3 linked regions of the Homo sapiens genome follow. The protein of the gene in region 2 interacts with the protein of the main gene of each other region in a pairwise test. Each region holds a gene or a part of one and is shown on either strand. Other genes may lie near its edges.

Region 1 (3,750 bases), on a different chromosome or scaffold from region 2:
TGTGGGGATGGGGTAGCCCTCAGCAATCAGGGTCCGCTTCTCCTCCTCTGTCAGGAGCAGTGGCCCTGATGTCCCCTGTAATTTCTGTAGGAAGTATGATGTGGTAGTTAGGAGCCAGGCAGCCCTGGGTTCAAATTCAAGCTCTGCCATGTGCTATCTATATGACCTGGGCAAGGCACACAATGCTCTATGCCTCAGTTTCCTCATCTGGAAAGGGAGTGGATCTGGGTGAAATTCAGTAACATGTGTCAGGTGCCAGGGCCATGCTGAGAGCTCAGGTGTTAGGCTCTTAGTGCATTGTTCGGGAGGGCTTCCTGGATCCCATCCCTGAGACTGCACCCTCAAAGCTTACTTGTCCAGGGTGCCCCAAACAGCATCTCCCTCAGACCCCTCCCTACAATCTTGGCTTGGGAGACTCCACACCCATCCCAGGGCTCAGGGCCTAGCTCCATGTTTCCTGGGGATTCTGGACCATCTGGGCACTTCCCCTCACACAGCGCTCCTTGGAGGCAGCCTGGGTCATCCCCTGGAGGTCAGGAATGTCAAGTTCTAGTCCTGGCTCTGCAATAGTCTCCTGTTCACCATGAGGCAGGGCGAAAGGATTTGAATTCCTGACCAGATGCGGTGGCTCACGCCTGTAATCCCAGCCCTTTGGGAGGCTGAAGTGGGCAGATCAAGAGGTCAAGAGATTGAGACCAGCTTGGCCAACATGGTGAAATGCTGTCTCTACTAAAAGTACATAAATTAGCTGGGTGGTGGTGTGCACCTGTAATACCAGCTACTCGGGAGGCTGAGGCAGGAGAATCACTTGAACCCTGGAGGTGGAGGTTGCAGTGAGCCGAGATCGTGCCACTGCACTCCAGGCGACAGAGCGAGACTCCATCTCAAAAAAAAAAAACAAACAAAAAAAAGCCAGACACGGTGGCAAGTGCCTGTAATTCCAGCTACTTGGGAGGCTGAGACAGGAGAATTGCTTGAACCTGGGAGGCAGATGTTTCAGTGAGCCGAGATTGAGCCACTGCACTCCAGCCTGGGCAACAGAGCAAGACTCAAAAATAAAAGGATTAGAACTCCCATCTGCCAGGTAAGCATCCCTCTGAATTCTGATGAGGGTGGGGATCAGTCTCGGGGCTCCCCAAACCCTCCTGACTGGCCAGTGTGCTCAGGTGGATGTATTCAATTCCTCATTTCTGGGATCAGCCCACCCCCAGCTCCTTACGTGAGGGGCAGTGAGGAGTGGGGAGGTGGAGATGGCCGTGGAGGAGCGCGCCATGGGCCTGACAGGGCTGGAGGGGGGCAGAGAGCGGGGACTCTGGGAGCCGTCGCTGTCACTGCCATGGCTGCTGGGGGGCGTCGGAGGCATCTGCACCAGGTCCTCTGGGGAGAGCAGGGGAAACCGAGTTAGCAACGTTGCACATCAGCTCCACTTGGACATCATGAGTTCAGCTGAGCATGAGCTTGCACCAGCCCTGACATTGTGGGACACGGACTGCCAGGCGCTTGGTCTCAGCTATGACATCAGAAGCCCCTCTGCAGGGTCAGAAAGACAGTTGACATCTGGGTAGCCAATTCCTGGGTGCTGCCTCATCTGACACCACAGAGGCCCAGCTCCTTTACAAGCTCGCCCTTGGCATAGACATCATAGGAGCTGAATTCGTGGGAGGTCCTCTGTGACCTCTGACTTCACAGGGTTCAGGGCCTTAAGCTCAGCAACTCCAGAAGATCACTAAGCTCTAGCTCAGCAACCCCAGAAGGTGACTGGGGCCTCTCTCTCATAGGGTCAGGCTGGGCAAGCAGGAGCGATGGCAGCAGTAGATTGGGCAAGAAGAGGACTGGACGAAGGCTGGGTGCAGTGGCTCACCCCTGTAATCACAGCACTTTGGGAGGCTGAGACAGGTGGATCCCCTGAGTCAGGAGTTCAAGACCAGCCTGACCAATATGGCCAAACCCCGTCTCTACTAAAAAATACAAAAATTAGCCAGGCGTGGTGGTGGGCACCTGTAATCCCAGGTACTTAGGAGGCTGAGACAGGAGAATTGCTTGAACCTGGGATGGGGAGGTTGCAGTGAGCTGAGATCGTGCCATGGTACTCCAGCCTGGGTGACAGAGTGAGACTCCATCTCAAAAAACAAACAAACAAACAAACAAACAAAAAACAAAAACGAAGAGGACTAGACGAAGAGTGGGCATGGATGGAGGGACAGTGGGTAGGGCAGGGTGGAGAGGATATTCTGGGTGGGGGAAGGTTGTCAAGAGATAGGGATGGGCTGAACCAAGGAAGTGGGGATGCTATCTGCCTATGACTGGAGGGGAAAAGAGCCCTTCCCCTGGACACACCTACCCGGTGTCACTTTGAGGAACTGGTTCACCTCCAGAGGCTCTGCTTTGATCACTGGCAGCTGAGTCATCTCTCCCGGGGCCTGAGGAACAGACAAGCCCAGCTCCATTAGCTGCCCCTGGGTCTGTCCCCACCATGCCATCTACCCACCTCCTCCCTAAAGCTGGTTGCCTGCCCTGCACAGTTGGGGAAGTGGCTGGGCTTGGAGTTCTGGGCACAGCTGCAAGGGAACAGAGGCAAGCTCTTGAGCTTAAAGAAGCCAAGTCACACCTAAGAGAAAGGATTGCTGGCCAAGCAGTGTAGCTCAGACCTTAAGCTCAGAGAAGGTGAGCCTCTGAGTGTGGGGCCACCTTCCACACCAACTGTGAAGGCCACACAGGCTTTGGTATGTGGGTTGCCATGAGAATAAAACAAGAGGTAATGTCTGGAACAGTGTAGCTGTTCAATGGCTGGTAGCAGTAGTACAGAAGGAGGCATTAATTGGCTGGGGGCTCCGAGGATGCTCCCTGAGAAGTCAAAGTCTGAAATGAGTCCCGGGGTATAAATAGAAGTAGAATCTAGACAAAGAAGTTGGAGGCAATGAGAGCTCCTAATGGGTTGAAGTAAGGGCTTGATAGAATCAGATGGACATTTTTAACAAACATGCATTTCTCTTTATTTCTATTCTGACTTGTTGTTCCAGAAAGGACTTCAAGAGCATGCATGGCTTTGTACACATGACTACCAACATGCAAGTAAGTGGTGCTCTGTCTGAGGAAGGCGTTGTTGGGGGCTGGATTGCAGGCCCTGGGCTGCAGCCCCAGAGAGATCATGATATTGTGGGTGGGACGCAGAATCCAGAATGTAGGCTGATGAGTAAGAATCCCAGAAGGTTCAAGTTGGCAGGGACCTTGGAGATTCCTTGGTCTACATCCCAGCTCAGCCCTCAAGTGACAGAGAGGGGACTGCGGTGCAGAGAGCTCACTGTTGACAATGCCAGCTCCTGTGCCTTCCACTAGGGGTTATGACCTCACTCGCGTGGGCTTCAGGGTCTGGCAGGCCGAATTTGGAAGGCATGTCAGTTGCTTCTAACTGCATGATTTTGGGCAAATTACTTAACCCCTTGAGCCTCAGTTTCCCTTTCTGAAGTCTCCTCTTCCCTGGCTGCTGCTGCTGTCACTCCATCCCTTCCTGCTTTGGCAAGGCCTGAGGAGTCTCAGAGCCAGTCTTGGAGATGGTCTCAAAAGATCCTGCATATTTGCCGCCGACCCTTGATCCCACGGGTCTGTGGTGGGGCAGGGAGGGGCTGACCTTTCTTGCCTTCAGCCACGTACAGTTAGAGCAAGTGAGCCGTGTGGCCAGCAGGGGGCAGGGCCAGCCACGCTCCCATCTAGGGATTTTAAGATGCTGCTCATCCTGTGGAATCCCAGGGC
Region 2 (3,750 bases):
CGGGAATGTTTAGGAAAAGCTCGTTTAGGTATATGCTTGTTATTGGGCCATTACTATAACTTGCTATATATTCCTTAGGGTGTTCTCCTTTCAAACCAACATTCTTCCCTGGGCCCAGTCAAGGGCTAGTTCACACTGGTCTTCTCAGTCAGTCTCTCCCTTTTTGTAAATTTTTTTTTTTTTTTGAGACAAGGTCTCCCTCTCTCTCCCAGGATGGAGTACAGTGGTGTGATCACAGCTCACTGCAGCCTCAAAATCCTGGGCTCTACTGATTCCCCCACCTCAGCCTCCTGAGTAGCTGGGACTAGGGGCACAAATCAGTTCAGGATACTATGCAGTAACCCAGACCATGATGTTGGTGGGAGCAAGGGAGCAAGAATAAAACAAAGTTATAAATAAGCAGAAATTCTGACTAAGCATAAGATAGAAGACAGAAAAGAGAGAATAGACCAGACACAGTGGCTCATGCCTGTAATCCCAGCACTCTGGGGGGGGCCGAGGCACACAGATCATTTATGGTCAGAAGTTTGAGACAAGCCTGACCAACATGGTGAAATCCCCTCTCACTAAAAATTCAAAAAAAAAAAAACCACTAGCTGGGCATGGTGTCGCACGCCTGTAATCTCAGCCACCCAGGAGGCTGAGGCAGGAGAATCGCTTGAACTCAGGAGGCGGAGGTTACAGTGAGCTAAGATTGCACACTGCATTCCAACCTGGGCAACAGAGCCCAGGCTGAGACTCCATCTCAAAAAATAAAATAAAAATAAATAAATAAATAAATACAAATAAGAGAGAATTGAGGTCTAGACAGAGTGTTAAGAGTTAGGCTCCTTCTCGTCATGGCCTGGATGGCTGTTTTTTTTGTATGTTCTTTCAGCTTTCACTCATACTGTCTACTCAATGTTTCTTAAAATTTCATTTTTTTTTTAATAGAGATGGGCTTGCTATGTTGCCCAGGCAAGTCTCAAACTCCTCAAGTGATCCTCCTGCCTCACCTCCCAAACTGCTGGGATTGCGGGAGTGAGCCACCACACTTGGCCTCATTCAGCCTTTGCTTTTTTTTTTTTTTTTGAGACGGAGTCTCACTCTGTTGCCCAGGCTGGAGTGCAATGGCGTGATCTCAGCTCATTGCAACCTCCGCCTCCCGGGTTCAAGCAATTCTCCTGCCTCAGCCTCCCAAGTAGCTGGGACTACAGGCATGCGCCATGACACTCAGCTAATTTTTTTTTTTTTTGTATTTTTAGTAGAGACCGAGTTTCACCATGTTGGTCAGGCTGGTCTTGAACTCCTGACCACAGGTGATCCACCCACCTCAGCCTCCCAAAGTGCTGGGATTACAGGCGTGAGCCACAGCGCCCCGCAAGCCTTTGCTTTTTACTTCTCCTACTAAAACATTTTGATCAGGGCTTTAATTCGTCTTATCTACTAAGCTGTCCCCGTCTACCACACCCAGAACCACTCTGAGAATTCTTCCAAGACTTTCCATAATTAACCCTACTGAAGGCTGAACTCTTTGTGAGATCAGTTATGCCTCAAGACTACCAATTCAAATGTAAATGAATACCTGATAATAGATTGGGGTTATTATTTCATGCTTACTCAGTTAAAGTCATGCTTGTATATTTCACATTCTTGCAGACACAGAAATACAACTGAAAATATCTTACCAAGTTAGAGAATGCTGATCTAGCTTGATCCATCATTCTGAACTGCCACACAGAAGAACCTAGGTATCAGAATAGAGAATTATTGAGAAAGATACTACTGTATCAGATTAGTGAGCTTTCTATTACCAGGCTAAATGATACATTAAATTTTTAAAATACATTATCACTTTTCTAGAAAAGGTATTTAACCATAGTTTACATGACAACTAAATTAAGTGGGATCCTTTTTAAAGTTTGTTATATACATAATTCTTTTTTTTTCTTTTTGTAGAGACAAGGTCACCCTATGTTGCCCAGGCTGGTCTTGAACTCCTGGCCTCAAACAATCCTCCCACCTTGGCCTCCCAAAGTGCTGCAATTATAAGTACGAACCACTATGTTCTGAGTAGACAAAAGTGACACATACTGCTGGGCGGGGTGGCTCACACCTGTAATCCTAGCACTTTGGGAGGCTGAGATGGGTGGATCACCTGAGGTCAGGAGTTCAAGACCAGCCTGGCCAACATGGAGAAACCCTGTCTCTACTAAAAATACAAAAATTAGCCGGACGTGGTGGTGGGCGCCTGTAATCCCAGCCACTCGGGAGCCTGAGGCAGGAGAATGGCGTGAACCCAGGAGGTGGAGCTTGCAGTGAGCCAAGATCGCGCCACTGCACTCCAGCCTGGAAAACAAGAGCAAAACTCTGTCTCAAAAAAAAAAGAAAGTGACACATACAAAAAGACAAAATTAAGACTAAGGCAGACAAGACCAGTTATGCTACAAATACCACAAACCATCTCCAATGGGAAGGGGAAGAAATACTGATCCTGACTGAATGAATAGTTCCTACAAGTGATTCGATCTTTGACACAAGAAGAAACATGAAACACAGATTACGCTGTTTTACAGATGAAGAGGCCAGTTATTAGAGAAACTAAGTGGCCTGTTCAAGGCTGAAAATTGATAATCTAAGCGAAGTTAAATGGGTTACTGGGTTATAGAAATTGTGTTATCATCTCTGGAAATTTAAGACATTAACCTTAACTTTTGTCAAAGCAAAATACATCTCTGTAATCAAAGTCCTAAGTTAAGTTAAAGGCCTTAACTGAAATCTGAATTTTCCAGTTAATTTGGTTTGAGGGCATCTAGATACTTGAAAATGACATTATCCTGAGATTTGCAAAATGGACATTTATTGGATACCATTTTAAAGCTTTTCCTATATACGAGTACACTTAGGGCATATTAAACACACACGGCACAAAGCAAGCTGTGAGGTATACGCAAATTGTAAAGCAAAGGGTATTATAACTGGCATTAAGAAAAAGCTTTCTGGCCAGGCACGGTGGCTCATGCCTGTAATCCCAACACTTTGGGAGGCCGAGGCAGGTGGATCACGAGGTCAGGAGTTTGAGACCAGCCTGGCCAAGGTGGTGAAACCCCATCTCTACTAAAAATACAAAAATTAGATGGGCGTGGTGGTGGGCACCTGTAATCCCAGCTACTGGGGAGGCTGAGGCAGGAGAATCGCTTGAACCCGGGAGGTGGAGGTTGCAGTGAGCCGAGATGGCACCACTGCACTCCAGCCTGGGTGACGGAGTGAAACTCCATCTCAAAAAAATAATAAAAAAGAAAAAGAAAAAGCTCTAAAACCTATTACAAAAAATTCTTTTTAAATTCAAGCTTTAAAAACCAGTGTCCATATGCAATAGACCATATTCTTAGAAGCATAATCTTTTTTTTTTTCTTGAGACAGAGTTTCGGTCTTGTTGCCTAGGCTGGAGTGCAATGGCAGGATCTCGGCTCACTGCAACCTCCCCCTCCCGGGTTCAAGCCATTTTCCCACCTCAGACTCCGAGTAGCTGGGATTACAGGTGCCCACCACCATGCCCAGCTAATTTTTGTATTTTTAGTAGAGACGGGATTTTACCACGTTGGCCAGGCTGGTCTGGAACTTCTGACCTAGGGTGATCCACCCACCTGGCCTCCCAAAGTGCTAAGATTAGTTACTTGATAAGAACATCCCAAGGAAATCGAAGGCGTGAGCCACTGCGCCCAGCCAGAAGCACAATCTTTTGCCCCTTCTGTTACAAAAAGCTTATCA
Region 3 (3,750 bases), on a different chromosome or scaffold from region 2:
AGTTTAAACTATCCTAGGGGGAAGGAGTCAATGAGAGGCTTTAAGCAGTGGAGTGACATGATAGAGTTTGTACTTCACATCTTCACCCTCAGGTTAGAACTGGGTGAGGAGGTTGGATGAGAAGGCCATTTGAGTTGTCTAGTGAGAGGTAAGGATAGAGAGGAATGAATGGATTCCAGCAACAGAAGGTGGAATCGACAGTCATTGATTAGATGGGTGTGAGTGGTGAGGGAGAAGGGAACATTGAGAATGACTTCCAGTTTCTGGTTGGGGCAACTGGGCACACACACAGTGCCACCGACTGAGATAACCACATGGGGAGGAGATGACTTTAACATATATTGAGTTTTAAATGTCTGAGGTATATTCAGATAGAAAGACCTGGTAGATAATAAATGGATTCTGGAGTGAGGATAGAGTTGACATCTGATGATGCTGTTCTGGAAGTCTCGGTTTGCAGATGGTAATTGCAGACCTGAGAGGGACCAGATCCTGTGCTGGGAGAGGTCTGGTGAGAAAGGCAGAAAGCTTGGTCTGAATGCAGAGAAGTGCCTTTGACCAGAGGAACTCATAAGGGAGTCTGAAGGTCATGAGAGGTAGGAGGAAAGCAGCAGAGCTTAGAGTCACTAAAGCTGACAGAGAAGGCTTTTGAGGAGGCAGTGGTCAATTATGTCCAATGCTGCTAGAAGGTCAAGGAAGGATTGAGAAATGTCCATTGGATTTGGCAAAGAAAGTGGAGCAGGTGGTCATCAAGATGCTGGGTGGATGGGAGACCAAGGAGAGAAGAGAGGGATTCAAATAATGGAAACGAATTGCTGAGGGCCTGGTCACTCATGAGAGAGCTCTGGCGGTGGCATGGGGGAAATGGAAGGTGTTTGAGAGGAAGCGATTGACAGAGAGAGAGAGGAGTGAGGGGGACTACTCCTAAAACCTGGCTAGGAAGGAGAGCAAAGGGAGATATTAGGTGGAATGGGAGGTGGATTCCACAAAAAATCCCAGTGAGAGACACTTTTTGTTTTGTTTTTTGAAGATAGAAGATATGTGAGTTCGTATCAAAGCTGATTGTGAAGAACCAATACAGAGATATTTTAGAAATGAGAGAGAGGGGAGGCTGCTGGGCCAGGGGCATAATCAATAAAAGGAGGTCTCTTGAGTACAAGGGTAGAGAGAATGATTGCAATCCAGGGCTGAGGTGGGGTGACTGGCCACAGAAAGGAGGAGGGATGATTCCTCCATGTCCTCCAGCAGGCGGGAAGGGGAGCTGTGGCCATGGCACTGGGACAGGACAAGGGCAAAAACTACTCTTGAGACAATGGTAGTGTGAAAATAAAACCCCCCTGAAAACTGGACTCTTGACTTCTTTGTTCCAGGCCCAAAGCTGCTGCCAAACTTTGGGGTTCTCAGCAGCACGCCTTGCAGACCAGGCCAGAGGCATTGATCCAGGGGCAGAGATGGTACAGGAGGTCAGGAGGTCAAGTCCTTCCTGAGGACCAGGATGACCTCCTGGCCCTGGGGGATGAATAGTGAGCCAAGGGGGAGGCTGGCAGGGACCAAACTCCAAGGTTGAAAATATTGGTGGAGAGACCATAGCTGCACTCTAGGAGTTCTGCACACAAAGCAGTGGCATGATGCCCTGTCTGTGACCACAGTGCTTCTCAAAACCTTTGTGGCCTTAATTCACTCCACTTCCCACCCCATCCCTCTCTTGAAATGCTGGGAATGGGTACACTACCTGTCTCCTCTAGCTTCTTGCCACATCAGCCAAATTTGCCCTTAGTGCCTGCTGAACTCTATTCAGGCTTCTCCCCAGGTTTACCTAAATGCCTCAAGCCCTTCCTTTTTAATAAGGCTCTTTGACCACTCCAGCCCTCACTGTTCCCATCTCCTTGCCTTCTGCAAATACTTGCGTGTACACTGGAATTGGATCTTGTTTCTCTCGTGTGTTACTTCATTTTCTTTCTTTTCTTTTTTTTTTTTTTTTCGTTTTAGAGATGGAGTCTTGCTCTGTGGCCCAGGCGGGAGTGCAGTGGCGCGATCTCGGCTCACTGCAACCCCTGCCCTCCCTGGTTCAAGCGATTCTGCTGCCTCAGCCTCCTGAGTAGCTGGGATTGCAGGCACTCGCTACCATGCCCGGCTAATTTTTTTTTTTTTTTTGTATTTTTAATGGAGACGGGGTTTCGTCATGTTGGTCAGGCTGGTCTCAAACTTCTGACCTCAAGTGATCCACCCGCCTCAACTTCCCAAAGTGTTGGGATTATAAGCGTGAGCCACCACGCCAGCCTCATGTGTTACTTCACTTTCTGCAAATATCAAACTCTGGTGACAGTGAATCCTTAGAGTGCATAGCATAAAACTTAGCATCTAGTAGGAGCATATGTATGTTTATTATTAATATAATGATTATATCTTATAGTTGTATATGGTGTTTTTACTCTTTTGCCCTAATTTGTCAAGCCTCCCAGGTTCTTACCTTGATGACATAGCGCATGTATTGTGGCCGTTTGGATTTGAGGACGATCCCTATGGTGCAAGGAATGAGAACCAGGACCAGTGATATCACGATGCCTTTATAGGGCACCTTGTCCTTCAGGTCCCCATCATAGATCCCCCTGGAGTAGATGTACAGGAGGAGAGGCATCATGCCAAGGGCACAGAAGGTGGAGCAGGTGGTCATCACAATGCTGGTGGGAGACATGGGAAGAGGGGAGAGAGAGAGAGCCCATAAATACAGACTATTTTGTTGAGTGCCTGCTAAGTGCCACTGTGCTAAGTGCTTGACATATGTGGCTTCAGTTCCTTTTCCCCATAACATTAGGCAGTAAGCATACTATCTTCTTTTCGCTGACAAGGAAGCTGGGGACTAGAAGAGTTGTGTCCTGCTCAAAGTCGCACAAGGTAGTAAGTGGCCAAGGCAGCATTTGAACTTAGGGTGGTTCAACTGCTTCAATCCCTGTGTGCTTCATTGTGGAAGGAGCCATTCTGATCTCCTTCTCTGTAATGGAACCCTTTTCGCATTGAGCACCTCCCCCATGCCAAGCCCATTTTGTAGAAAGCCAACTGTGTGATTCCATTACTCTGGTCATTAGCCCATTGGACCATGGAATGGCACCTGACCCACAGTTACTAAATGTCTGGTTTAGAGCCTAGGGAATGGCTTCTTGTAGTGACTTTGTCCAACGGAGACAATAACAATTAGCTATATCAGCACATTTTACCTCGTGGGGAGTCTGAGTGTGAGACACAGTGACAGGACACTTGGTCTTTGGGGATGGGTGGCATGGGAGTGATGCTCAGGCAGAAGTCAAAAACCCTACTAGAAAAATCAATAAACAGATACCATGATTAAAAGGACTGTAAAAGAAATAGTGAAGCAGTAAGAAACAGAATAATTGAAGGGCCATAATGGTGGGGTAGTAGAGAAGGCAGTAATAGATACCCATGTTGAGTAAGTGACAAGATAACCTGGTCAGATTTGCTTTGCATCTTGGATAGTATTCCAGTCCCCAACTCTGGTGTTCTCATGTTCTTTACTTTCTGGTTCCTCTTGATATTATTTAAAATAAATTATGACACTCAGAGCCTGAATAATATGTCCTTCCAGCTCTAATATGTATCCTACTTGTCCAATTTCCTTTTCCATTTGGAATCTTATATATGTTAGTCCCAGGACCCTGTCTAGGGAGAGGCCCTCCAGAAAGGTCAACTGAGAAGGAAGCTGATAGGGCATCTCCTTAGATTTATGGACATTTA

The links.
Region 1: the proteins of TFRC (region 2) and CREB3L1 interact in binary tests that used the Homo sapiens proteins (3 or more experiments, as listed by UniProt).
Region 3: the proteins of TFRC (region 2) and SLC10A1 interact in binary tests that used the Homo sapiens proteins (3 or more experiments, as listed by UniProt).

Annotation. Positions count from the first base shown.
Region 1 is NC_000011.10:46,308,659-46,312,408, reverse strand, and holds part of CREB3L1 (cyclic AMP-responsive element-binding protein 3-like protein 1), read right to left. Parts: intron 2,421-3,750; coding exon 2,342-2,420; intron 1,378-2,341; coding exon 1,220-1,377; intron 85-1,219; coding exon 1-84.
Region 2 is NC_000003.12:196,075,397-196,079,146, forward strand, and holds part of TFRC (transferrin receptor protein 1), read right to left. Parts: intron 1,727-3,750; 5' UTR 1,704-1,726; coding exon 1,668-1,703; intron 1-1,667. UniProt on the Homo sapiens protein: Cellular uptake of iron occurs via receptor-mediated endocytosis of ligand-occupied transferrin receptor into specialized endosomes. Endosomal acidification leads to iron release.
Region 3 is NC_000014.9:69,783,627-69,787,376, forward strand, and holds part of SLC10A1 (hepatic sodium/bile acid cotransporter), read right to left. Parts: intron 2,682-3,750; coding exon 2,471-2,681; intron 1-2,470. UniProt on the Homo sapiens protein: As a major transporter of conjugated bile salts from plasma into the hepatocyte, it plays a key role in the enterohepatic circulation of bile salts necessary for the solubilization and absorption of dietary fat and fat-soluble vitamins.